3 linked regions of the Homo sapiens genome follow. The protein of the gene in region 1 purifies or fractionates together with the protein of each later gene. This does not show direct contact. Each region holds a gene or a part of one and is shown in the gene's direction. Other genes may lie near its edges. The genes, in order: GPR84, REEP5 and TUBGCP2.

The links.
Region 2: the proteins of GPR84 (region 1) and REEP5 purify together in Homo sapiens (affinity purification with mass spectrometry, with the first as the bait; one large-scale study listed by BioGRID). This does not show direct contact.
Region 3: the proteins of GPR84 (region 1) and TUBGCP2 purify together in Homo sapiens (affinity purification with mass spectrometry; one large-scale study listed by BioGRID and IntAct). This does not show direct contact.

Annotation. Positions count from the first base shown.
Region 1 is NC_000012.12:54,362,387-54,365,986, reverse strand, and holds GPR84 (G-protein coupled receptor 84), read left to right. Parts: upstream 1-1,500; 5' UTR 1,501-1,594; intron 1,595-2,127; 5' UTR 2,128-2,135; coding exon 2,136-3,326; 3' UTR 3,327-3,542; downstream 3,543-3,600. UniProt on the Homo sapiens protein: G protein-coupled receptor that responds endogenously to dietary fatty acids or nutrient, specifically medium-chain free fatty acid (FFA) with carbon chain lengths of C9 to C14.
Region 2 is NC_000005.10:112,880,728-112,884,227, reverse strand, and holds part of REEP5 (receptor expression-enhancing protein 5), read left to right. Parts: intron 1-3,500. UniProt on the Homo sapiens protein: Plays an essential role in heart function and development by regulating the organization and function of the sarcoplasmic reticulum in cardiomyocytes.
Region 3 is NC_000010.11:133,291,713-133,295,559, reverse strand, and holds part of TUBGCP2 (gamma-tubulin complex component 2), read left to right. Parts: intron 1-1,790; coding exon 1,791-1,998; intron 1,999-2,321; coding exon 2,322-2,521; intron 2,522-2,871; coding exon 2,872-3,061; intron 3,062-3,512; exon of another isoform or gene 3,513-3,847. UniProt on the Homo sapiens protein: Component of the gamma-tubulin ring complex (gTuRC) which mediates microtubule nucleation.

The DNA of each region.
Region 1 (3,600 bases):
ACCTCCCAGACTCAAATGATCCTCCCACCTCAGCCTCCCCAGTAGCTGGGACTACAGGTGCACATCACCACAGCTGGCTATTTTTTTTTTTATTGTAAAGACAGGGTCTCACTATGTTGCCCAGGCTGGTCTTAAACTCCTGACCTGAAGTCATCCTCCCAGCTCAGCCTCCCAAAGCATTGGGATTACAGGCATGAGCCTCCAAGCCAGGCCTATATAGTATTTTAAAGCAAGCCTCAGCAAACTTTTTCTCAAAGGGCCTGATTATAAATATTTTAAACTGTGTTAATCAAGAGATAAAACTGAGGATATTACATAGGCACTTATATAACAATTTAAAATATAACCATTTTTATTTTACTTACTTATTTATTTATTATTTTATTTTTTGAGACGGAGTCTTGCTCTGTCATCCAGGCTGGAGTGCAGTGGTGCAATGTGATCTTGGCTAACTGCAAGCAACCTCCGCCTCCCGGGTTCAAGCGATTCTCTTGCCTCAGCCTCCCTAGTAGCTGGGATTACAGGCGCACCCATCACGCCTGGCTAATTTTTGTATTTTTAGTAGAGACGGGGTTTTACCATGTTGGCCAGGCTGGTCTCGAACTCCTGACCTCAAGTGATCTGCCCTCCTTGGCCTCCCAAAATGTTGGGATAATGGGCGTGAGCCACTGCACCTGGCCTAAAATATAACCATTTTTAAATGGAAAAAAAACATGATTGGGTCACAGGCTATACAAAAACAGCAGACTAGATTTGGCCCATAGGGTGAAGTTTACTCACCCTTGCTCTGGAGAATCGATTAAGCATTTGCATATTTATGTATCTGTCTCCCCTAGTAGACTATGCACAAGGCCATATATCAGACGTTCTTGTATCCCCAGTGTCTAGATCAGAGTCTGGTGTATAGTAGGCACTCAGTACTAAGTTGTTGGGTAAATGGATAAATGAATGATTGAACAGGACCCTGATCCCTTGAGGAGAATGAAACCAGAATTCTGGATGCCTCATTCCCCACTTTTCTTCATCTGACTTGGTTTCTCAAATGTGCTAGGGTGTCACATGGGTCCCTCTGACTTGAACCATGTCTAAGCCGTGGAGACAAGAAAGGTAGTGCTCCTCTGAAACAAACCCAAGGCTTCTGGGGGTACCTAAAGTTGCTCCTGGAACTTGGTCTTATCTTTTGGCCCTTTGAGGAGTGGCCCAAATGTTCTGATGCTCTGACTCCGTGCCCTAGCAATTCTTGGCAATGATCTTACAGATGAGTTCTGCCATGCAAAGAGGGGAAGAAAACAGAGTTTGGGTTTCAGGAAGGAGAAAGGAAGAGTGAAACCACTCTGAGGTAAGTAGCGGGGGACTTTCAACAGAGAAGCCTAGATTTCACTAGCCGAAGCAAAATGAGTAGGACCGGAGGTGGTGAAGGAAGTGGCTGGGATTGGGTAATGGGGGAGTTTCTTATTCTTTCAGTGGACTATAATAGGATACATAAGAGCAGGATGTCTCCTGCTTGAAGCCTAACTGTCCACCAGAAAGGACTGCTCTTTGGGTGAGTTGAACTTCTTCCATTATAGAAAGAATTGAAGGCTGAGAAACTCAGGTAAGCACTTTTGTTGTGGGTATACTTTTACCTTCTTGGTCTCCTCATCTCCCAGGTGGTAACAAACAGAAATGACTAAAGCCTATATGTGTGTGTAGTGGAAAGGAGCAGAGGGAACTGAATACAGAGAGGATCCTGAATACACGATGCTGAATAGAGAGAGGGGACTCCTGGGGGTCTTTGGGGATGGGGAAGGAATTAAAAAAGTTGGAGGGCACTGGGTTTACTGAGAGCAGCGGGATGGATATAGAAGAGGACTGAGGTTTGGAGCAGAATAAGACTAAGATATTTAGGCAAGAGATATTTAGATAAAAACTTGGGGAAATATTTGAGAATGGGAAAGGACTAAGAGAACCTAAGGAGAGAGTTAGGGATCTTGAGATGAAGAGGCCTGGGAATGGTTCAGGAGGATACTGAATTAAGGTGAGGTCCAGGAACAGTTTAGATGTCCAGGGTCCCAGAACTGTTCAAGAGATCTAAGTTGAATGCTAGGTTCTGATTCCCTCTTCCTCTTCCACCCTCTGCCTCTTTAGCCTCTATCATGTGGAACAGCTCTGACGCCAACTTCTCCTGCTACCATGAGTCTGTGCTGGGCTATCGTTATGTTGCAGTTAGCTGGGGGGTGGTGGTGGCTGTGACAGGCACCGTGGGCAATGTGCTCACCCTACTGGCCTTGGCCATCCAGCCCAAGCTCCGTACCCGATTCAACCTGCTCATAGCCAACCTCACACTGGCTGATCTCCTCTACTGCACGCTCCTTCAGCCCTTCTCTGTGGACACCTACCTCCACCTGCACTGGCGCACCGGTGCCACCTTCTGCAGGGTATTTGGGCTCCTCCTTTTTGCCTCCAATTCTGTCTCCATCCTGACCCTCTGCCTCATCGCACTGGGACGCTACCTCCTCATTGCCCACCCTAAGCTTTTTCCCCAAGTTTTCAGTGCCAAGGGGATAGTGCTGGCACTGGTGAGCACCTGGGTTGTGGGCGTGGCCAGCTTTGCTCCCCTCTGGCCTATTTATATCCTGGTACCTGTAGTCTGCACCTGCAGCTTTGACCGCATCCGAGGCCGGCCTTACACCACCATCCTCATGGGCATCTACTTTGTGCTTGGGCTCAGCAGTGTTGGCATCTTCTATTGCCTCATCCACCGCCAGGTCAAACGAGCAGCACAGGCACTGGACCAATACAAGTTGCGACAGGCAAGCATCCACTCCAACCATGTGGCCAGGACTGATGAGGCCATGCCTGGTCGTTTCCAGGAGCTGGACAGCAGGTTAGCATCAGGAGGACCCAGTGAGGGGATTTCATCTGAGCCAGTCAGTGCTGCCACCACCCAGACCCTGGAAGGGGACTCATCAGAAGTGGGAGACCAGATCAACAGCAAGAGAGCTAAGCAGATGGCAGAGAAAAGCCCTCCAGAAGCATCTGCCAAAGCCCAGCCAATTAAAGGAGCCAGAAGAGCTCCGGATTCTTCATCGGAATTTGGGAAGGTGACTCGAATGTGTTTTGCTGTGTTCCTCTGCTTTGCCCTGAGCTACATCCCCTTCTTGCTGCTCAACATTCTGGATGCCAGAGTCCAGGCTCCCCGGGTGGTCCACATGCTTGCTGCCAACCTCACCTGGCTCAATGGTTGCATCAACCCTGTGCTCTATGCAGCCATGAACCGCCAATTCCGCCAAGCATATGGCTCCATTTTAAAAAGAGGGCCCCGGAGTTTCCATAGGCTCCATTAGAACTGTGACCCTAGTCACCAGAATTCAGGACTGTCTCCTCCAGGACCAAAGTGGCCAGGTAATAGGAGAATAGGTGAAATAACACATGTGGGCATTTTCACAACAATCTCTCCCCAGCCTCCCAAATCAAGTCTCTCCATCACTTGATCAATGTTTCAGCCCTAGACTGCCCAAGGAGTATTATTAATTATTAATAAATGAATTCTGTGCTTTTAATGCTCAGGTGTGGTCTCTGGGGAAGAAGGAAACAGGTCACGGTTAGGCTCAGGGGCCA
Region 2 (3,500 bases), on another chromosome or scaffold:
AATGCCTTATAGGCCATTGTAAAGGTTTGGCTTCTACTCTATGTGAGATGTGGAGGTACTGGGGACTTTTAACCACAGAAGCAAAATGATCTGTCCTGTGTTTTAATAAGATGCCTGTGGCCACTGTATTAGGAACAGACTGAAGGGGTAAGGCAGGAAGTTGGGAGAACAGTTAAAAGGTTCTTGCAGTGATCTGGCTGGAGGTGATGATGGTGGCTTGGTTCCTTGTGTAGCAGTAGGGGGTAAGAAGTATCAGATTCTTGATATATTTCAAAGGTAGAAGTAATGGGATTTGCTTATGGATTGGCTTATGGATTGGGCATGGGTCAGAGGGGTTAAGGACAAGGACGAGCTTTTTAGCCTGAACAGATGGAAGGATAAAATTGCCACTGAGCTGGAGAAGACTGGGTAGAACAGGTTTTGTTGGGGTGGGAGGTTGTGGTGGGTGGGAGGATATGGAATTTAGTCCTGGACATTTGTTTGAGGTGTCTGTTTGTTAGATACCTACAAGGATTAGTCAAATAGCTAGTTGGATACAGGTGTCAAGAGTTCAAGAAACAGGTCTGGACTGGAGATATAAATTTGGGGGCCACAAGCTTATACATATTAAGCATGAGACTAGATGAGATCACGAAGGTAGTGTAGTTAGGAAACAGGAGGTCCAAAGACTGAACGCTGGGGAGTCTAAGGTTTAGAGACTGGAGAGATGAGAAGCAACTAGCAAAGCAGACTGATAAGGAGTGGCCAATTGAGGTAGCAAGAAAACCATGAGCGTGTGGTATCCCTGGGGCCAAGAACAGAAAGTTTTTCTTTCAGAGAGGAGAAGTGATCTGTCATGTTACATGCTGTCAACAGGTCAAGTAAGATAAGGACTGAGAACTGAGCAGATTTAGCAATGAGGAAGGTACTAGTGATTTTGATAACACAGATTTTGTGGAGTGATATCAAACTCCTGATTGCAATGGATTTGAGAGAATGAGAGAAAAGGGATGAGAGAATATAGATCTTTCTTTTGAGAAATTTCCTGCAAAGGAGAGCAGAAGAATGGGGCTATAACTGGAAGAAGGAATTATGGTCCTGAAATTTTAAAAGTTTTTTTCTTAAGGTAGGAGAAACAAAGCCTGTTTGAAAATTAATGGGAATAATTCAACAGAGCAAAAAATGATGATAGGAGTGAGAGGGTGAATTGTTGGAGCTCTGTCCTTGACCAGTGAAGGATCCAGTATACAGTAGAGGGATTGGTCGAAGAGCTGGAAGTTTATGGTAACAGCAGGGAAATCAGGTTTTATGGTATGCTGTGAGCACATGTGACTATGGGAGCCTACAGAAGTGACTTTCTAATTGTTTCATATTTCTCAGTAAAGTAGGAAGGCCAATTGAGAGAGGATGGGGAAGGAGACAATGGAAAGAGAAGGTATGAAATAGTTGCGAAGGAGAGGGACTGCTCATCTTTTTCTGTAAAGGGCCAGATAACAAATGTTTTAAATTTCGTGGGCTATCATGTCTCTGTTGCAGCTACTCTTCTCTGCCATTGTAGTGTGAAAACAGCCATGGACACTACATAAGCGAGTTTGGCTGCAGTGTGCTGGCCCCTCTAGGACAGTTGGAGAGTAAATGGACTGTCAGGCAGTGTTAAAGGCATGCTTGAGATTTGCGTTCATGAATTTATAGTGAAACCAGTTCTTGTTTATGTTTTTCTCCAGCCATACTCAGCTACATGGGTATAGCTACAGAGTAGGTGGAGAGTTGTGTCAAGGTTGTGATTTCCAGCAAGAACTATGAAGTGAGGGTGGGACTGTGGAGTGGTTAATGCTTGACAATGGAATTTAACCTGAGTAAGGTGGGAAGTGGTGGTGGAAGAACTCTGAATCAGGATAATAGCGGGAATACTCCATCATCATCTACAATGAGCAAAAAAGCAGGGTGGGGAGTGCACTACAAAGATAAAAGGTGATGGTGGCTGAGTGGGATGCTTGATACAAGATTATGGAGGGACTGCAGTATTGGTACTAACAGGGATCCTGGGAGTCAGTGCCATATGTAGGGTGGAATATAAGGGTTATTGGAGGGGAGGAACTAAGAGGTCAGGATATTAGAAGATCATCACATATGTCTACATGGATATTAAAATCATCAATAATTAAAATAGGAGTAGTAGGTCAGGTGCAGTGCTCACACCTGTAATCACAGCACTTCCAGAGGTCAAGGTGGGTGGATTGCTTGAGCTCAGGTGTTTGAGACCAGCCTGAGTAACATGGTGAAACCCAGTCTCTACAAAAAAAAAAAAACACAAAAATTAGCCAGATGTGGTGATGCGTACCAGTAGTCCCAGCTACTCAGGAGGCTGAGATGGGAGGATCACCTGAGCCTGGAGGTTGAGGCTGCAGTGAGCTGAGATGGCATCACTGCATTCCAGCCTGGGTGACAGAGTGAGACCCTGTCTCTAAATAAATAAATAATAGGAGTAGTGTTAGAAAGGAACATTAAGTTAGGAGCTAAAATCTTCAAGAACTAAGGCAAAGTAGCCCAAGAGTCAGGGATGACAGGGAAAGGGAAGGCTACTCAGTGATAGAATCTGATGACATGAGATTCTGAAAGTGGCAATGAAGAACAAAAACAACACCTACCAGATCCATTTGTACTAGGGTCATGAGAGGAAAGAAACAGCCACCACTTGAGAAAGCAGTGTCCTCAGGGCACAGCCAGCTTTCTCTAAGAGCAAGAAGGTAAAGGAAACATTCGGAGGAATGGATGAGGATATAGATTTTGCCAGTGATGGGTCTTGAGTTCCAGAGGGACTCAGATTTTAGAAATTGGAGAAAGGTTTTTGTGTTTTAGAGCTCTGTGGTAGTTAGACATGGGAGTTGTGAGGTTGCCTGACCATGGGGAAGTAAAATCCCAAGACAGTTCTCCAGCAGCACTGATGCCCCAGAAGTGGTATGTTCCCCATTTCTCCCTCACAGACCTCTCTTCTCTGGACTCCTATTTTTGGGCATACAAATCCAGTCTACTTGAATATGTTTTAGGTATTTTTTAACTTGTAGCCTTAACCTCCTCCCACTTTAGGATTGCCAGCTTTTTTTTTTTTTTTTTTTTTTTGAAACAGAGTCTCACTCTGTTGCCCAGGCTGGAGTGCAGTAGCATGATCTCAGCTCACTGCAGCCTCCACCTTCCAGGTTCAAGGGATTCTGCTGCCTCAGCCTCCCAAGTAGCTGTGATTACAGGTGTGGGCCACCACGCCCAGCTGATACTTGTATTTTTAGTAGAGACACCGTTATGCCATGTTGGCCAGGCTGGTTTCAAACTCCTGGCCTCAAGTGATCCACCCACCTCGGCCTCTCAAAATGCTGGGATTACAGGCATGAGCCACCATGCCCAGCCAGGATTACCAGCTTATTTTTAAGAGCTTTCTTTTCTTCTCCCTTCCCTTAGCCTAATCAGCAACCTGTGGTGATGTCATTTCTGTCTACTTCACCCACATTTCTTAGCCTCTTGGTTCT
Region 3 (3,847 bases), on another chromosome or scaffold:
CGTGTTCGGTGGTCGTTCGGACGTGGTGATTTGCAGGTGACATCGCAGGTGTTGAGATGACACTGAGGATGTTGAATATTGGGGAGGTGAAGCAACTGACTCTTTTTTTGCTTGAGACAGGGTCTCACTTCGTTGCCTAGGCTGGAGTGCAGTGGCACAATCTCAGCTCACTGCAGCCTCGACCTCCCAAGCTCAGGTGATTCTCCCACCTCAGCCTCCCGAGTAGCTGGGACTGCAGGTGTGCACCATCACACGCAGCTAATTTCTGTATTTTCAGTAGAGACGGGGATTCGCCGTGTTGCCCAGGCTGGTCTTGAACTCCTGGAGTCAAGCGATCTGTCCACCTTGGCCTCCTAAAGTGATGGGATTACAGGTGTGAGCCACCATACCCGGCCTAAAGCAACCCTTGAGGTCCCTCCACAGCCAGGCGGCTGGATCCACACTAACCCCCACCCCACGGCACCTCCACCCCACCGTGAGGCTTCTCCCCACAAGGGCATTGGCCGAGGCTTCGTGGCTGTGGATGAATGAGGCCAACATGGTGGAAAGTAAGTGATGCAGAGTCAGAGGCAGTTCCTGGAAGATGCACTCGCTGTTCCCAAAACGCCAAGCCACACCCACTCCTTTAGGGATGGTAGACATTGGGGTCTCGGTTTTATTGGTCATCCTGAGAAGGCCACTGGAGTAATAGAAAGAAATGGAATTTGAAGTTGAAAAGTGTAGATCTGCCAGCCTGGGCAACACGGCAAGACCCCACCTTTACAAAAAATTTAAAAATTAGCCAGGAATGGTGGCACGTGCCAGTGGTCCCAGCTCCGAGGGAGACTAAGGATACAGGATCGCTTGAGCCTGGGTGCTCAAGGCTGCAGTGAGCTGAGATTGCACCACTGCCCTCCAGACTGGGTGACAGAGTGAGATTTGTCTCAAAAATAAAAAAAGGAAAAAAAAAAAACAAGGACAGTGTGGATCTGCATCAGGATTGAGGCTTTCGCTGAAGGGCTTGCGTTGGTGACGGATTGTAGTCTTGAGGCCTGCAGTCACAGGACACTTCCCAGCAGATGTGTGAGGCTGACAGAGTGATTTTGTAAACCGAAAGCCTGTTGTACGGAGCCTTCCTGAGCTGCCAGGGCCTGGTTTGGGTATGGTCTGGCTGGCACGGGGCCCTGTCAGGCCCTCGTGGGGACAGTTTCAACATCCTGCTTTCGTCTGGTGCTCCTCCCGGCCCCCCAGGCATGGCCCGCCTGAGGCTGTGGACTGAGAACTTGGTCCTGGGACCTGAGGGGTTTGGTGGGTGGCGGCCCGTGGCCGTCCTCGTGAGGAAGCTTAGCTGTGTGTCCTGCAGCCGTCTCATCCTCTCTGGATAGAAATTATCAAGAGTTTCTTAACGTTTAAGTGATAGCTTTTTAAAGACAAGGTTTTTTGTCCCAGAGTAACTCAGACTTACCAAGTTGTACTTACCAATGTTGAAAGTGCAGCTTCTGCTGGAGTCGCCTTTTCAACTCCTAACTTCACCTTTTCAAATGTCAGCCATGTATCTGAGCATTGCGGAGCCGAGTGTGGTGAGATCTTGACACCAGCCACCACGCCTCCCAGGCCGGCCCCGTCCTGCGGCGGTTGGAACTCAGCCTGTGGCTCCCCAGTGGGGTCAGTCAAAGCCAAGTGCAGTGGCTGACCTTTTATACCCATAAACAAAGATGAGCAAGAGTGAGACTGACCCGCAGATGAGGGCACGTGGCTGTGGGGGCATGGGAGTGGGGGCTGCAGAGCCACAGCGCTGTCTGTGCCCGCAGGCACGTTGCCCCTGGCCTCGCAGGAGTCGGCCGTGGTGGAGGACCTGCTGTACGTGCTGGTGGGCGTGGACGGGAGGTACGTCAGTGCTCAGCCCCTGGCTGGGAGGCAGAGCCGGACCTTCCTCGTGGACCCCAACCTGGACCTGTCCATCAGGGAGCTGGTGCACAGGATCCTCCCAGTGGCCGCCAGCTACTCCGCTGTGACCAGGTGGGCACCGGGCGCGGTCCCTGGGAGCCTGCGCTGTTGTGGGGGAGGGGTTAGGTCCCATCCTGATGACCATGGGGACGTCTGCATCGCTTCTAAAGAGAGCGCCCGCCTTGGTGACAACTCCGTGCCCAACTCAGTTTTGGAGGGTCTGTGAGTCACCATCCAGGGTCCTGACTCATCTCCTCCTGGGGCAAAAGTTCCCCTCTGGGATGTGGGGTTCAAGTGAGTCATTTGCTTCCTGTTTGGGATGAGACTCAGAATATCGGACATTGTATGTGCCTGCAGCTTGCCTTTTTGAGGAAGTCTGACAGCTTTTCTTCCAGGTTCATTGAAGAGAAGTCTTCCTTCGAGTACGGGCAGGTGAACCACGCCCTGGCGGCCGCCATGCGCACCCTGGTGAAGGAGCACCTGATTCTGGTGTCACAGCTGGAGCAGCTGCACAGGCAGGGCCTCCTTTCGCTGCAGAAGCTCTGGTTCTACATCCAGCCAGCCATGCGCACCATGGACATCCTGGCCTCCCTCGGTGCGTGCCCGCCCGGGGGGCATGGGGCAGTGGTGGGTGGCAGGTGTTGAACATGGCACCCAGTGTGAGGAGAGACTCTGCAGGGGCCGTGGAGCAGCTGCCCAGGGCAGGGGCGTGTGGCCAAAGCTCATGTTGCTCCATGTGCTATTAACTTGCAAGAGGAAAGCCCTGGAAGCTCTTACTGGTCAGCTGAAATCAGCAACTACAACCTTACAGTTAATACGTATCCCAAAGAAGCAGCACCGTCCCAGGAAGAAGGTTGGAGAAGCATGAGGGGCCCCAGCAGTGTTGTTGGCAGAGGCTGGGCGTGCGCTTCCTTCTCAGCAGTGAGCCCTCCTTTCTCCCCACAGCCACCTCGGTGGACAAAGGCGAATGTCTTGGGGGGTCCACGCTGAGCCTGCTCCACGACAGGAGCTTCAGCTACACAGGGGACAGCCAGGCGCAGGAGCTATGCCTGTACCTAACCAAGGCGGCCAGTGCTCCCTACTTCGAGGTTCTGGAGAAGTGGATCTACAGGGGCATCATCCACGACCCATACAGGTAGGGCTCCCCGGGACACGGGGACACGGAGGGACACGGGGACACGGAGGGACATGGGGGACACGGAGTGTGCATGCTGCCCTCTCCCGTACAGGTAGGGCTCCCCGGGACACGGGGACACGGGGGACACGGAGGGACACGGGGGACACGGAGTGTGCATGCTGCCCTCTCCCGTACAGGTAGGGCTCCCCGGGACACGGGGACATGGGGGACACGGAGGGACACGGGGGACACGGAGTGTGCATGCTGCCCTCTCCCGTACAGGTAGGGCTCCCCGGGACACGGGGACATGGGGGACACGGAGGGACACGGGGGACACGGAGTGTGCATGCTGCCCTCTCCCGTACAGGTAGGGCTCCCCGGGACACGGGGACATGGGGGACATGGGGGACACGGAGGGACACGGAGGGACACGGAGGGACACGGGGGACACGGAGGGACATGGGGGACACGGAGGGACACGGAGGGACACAGAGGGACATGGGGGACACGGAGGGTGCGTGCTGCCCTCTCCCGTACAGGTAGGGCTCCCCGGGACACGGGGACACGGAGGGACACGGAGGGACATGGGGGACACGGAGGGACATGGGGGACACGGACGGTGCATGCTGCCCTCTCCCGTACAGGTAGGGCTCCCCGGGACACAGGGACACGGAGGGACATGGGGGACACGGAGGGACATGGGGGACACGGAGGGCGCGTGCTGCCCTCTCCCGTACAGGTAGGGCTCCCCGGGACACGGGGACACGGAGGGACACGGGGACACGGAGGGACATGGGGGACACG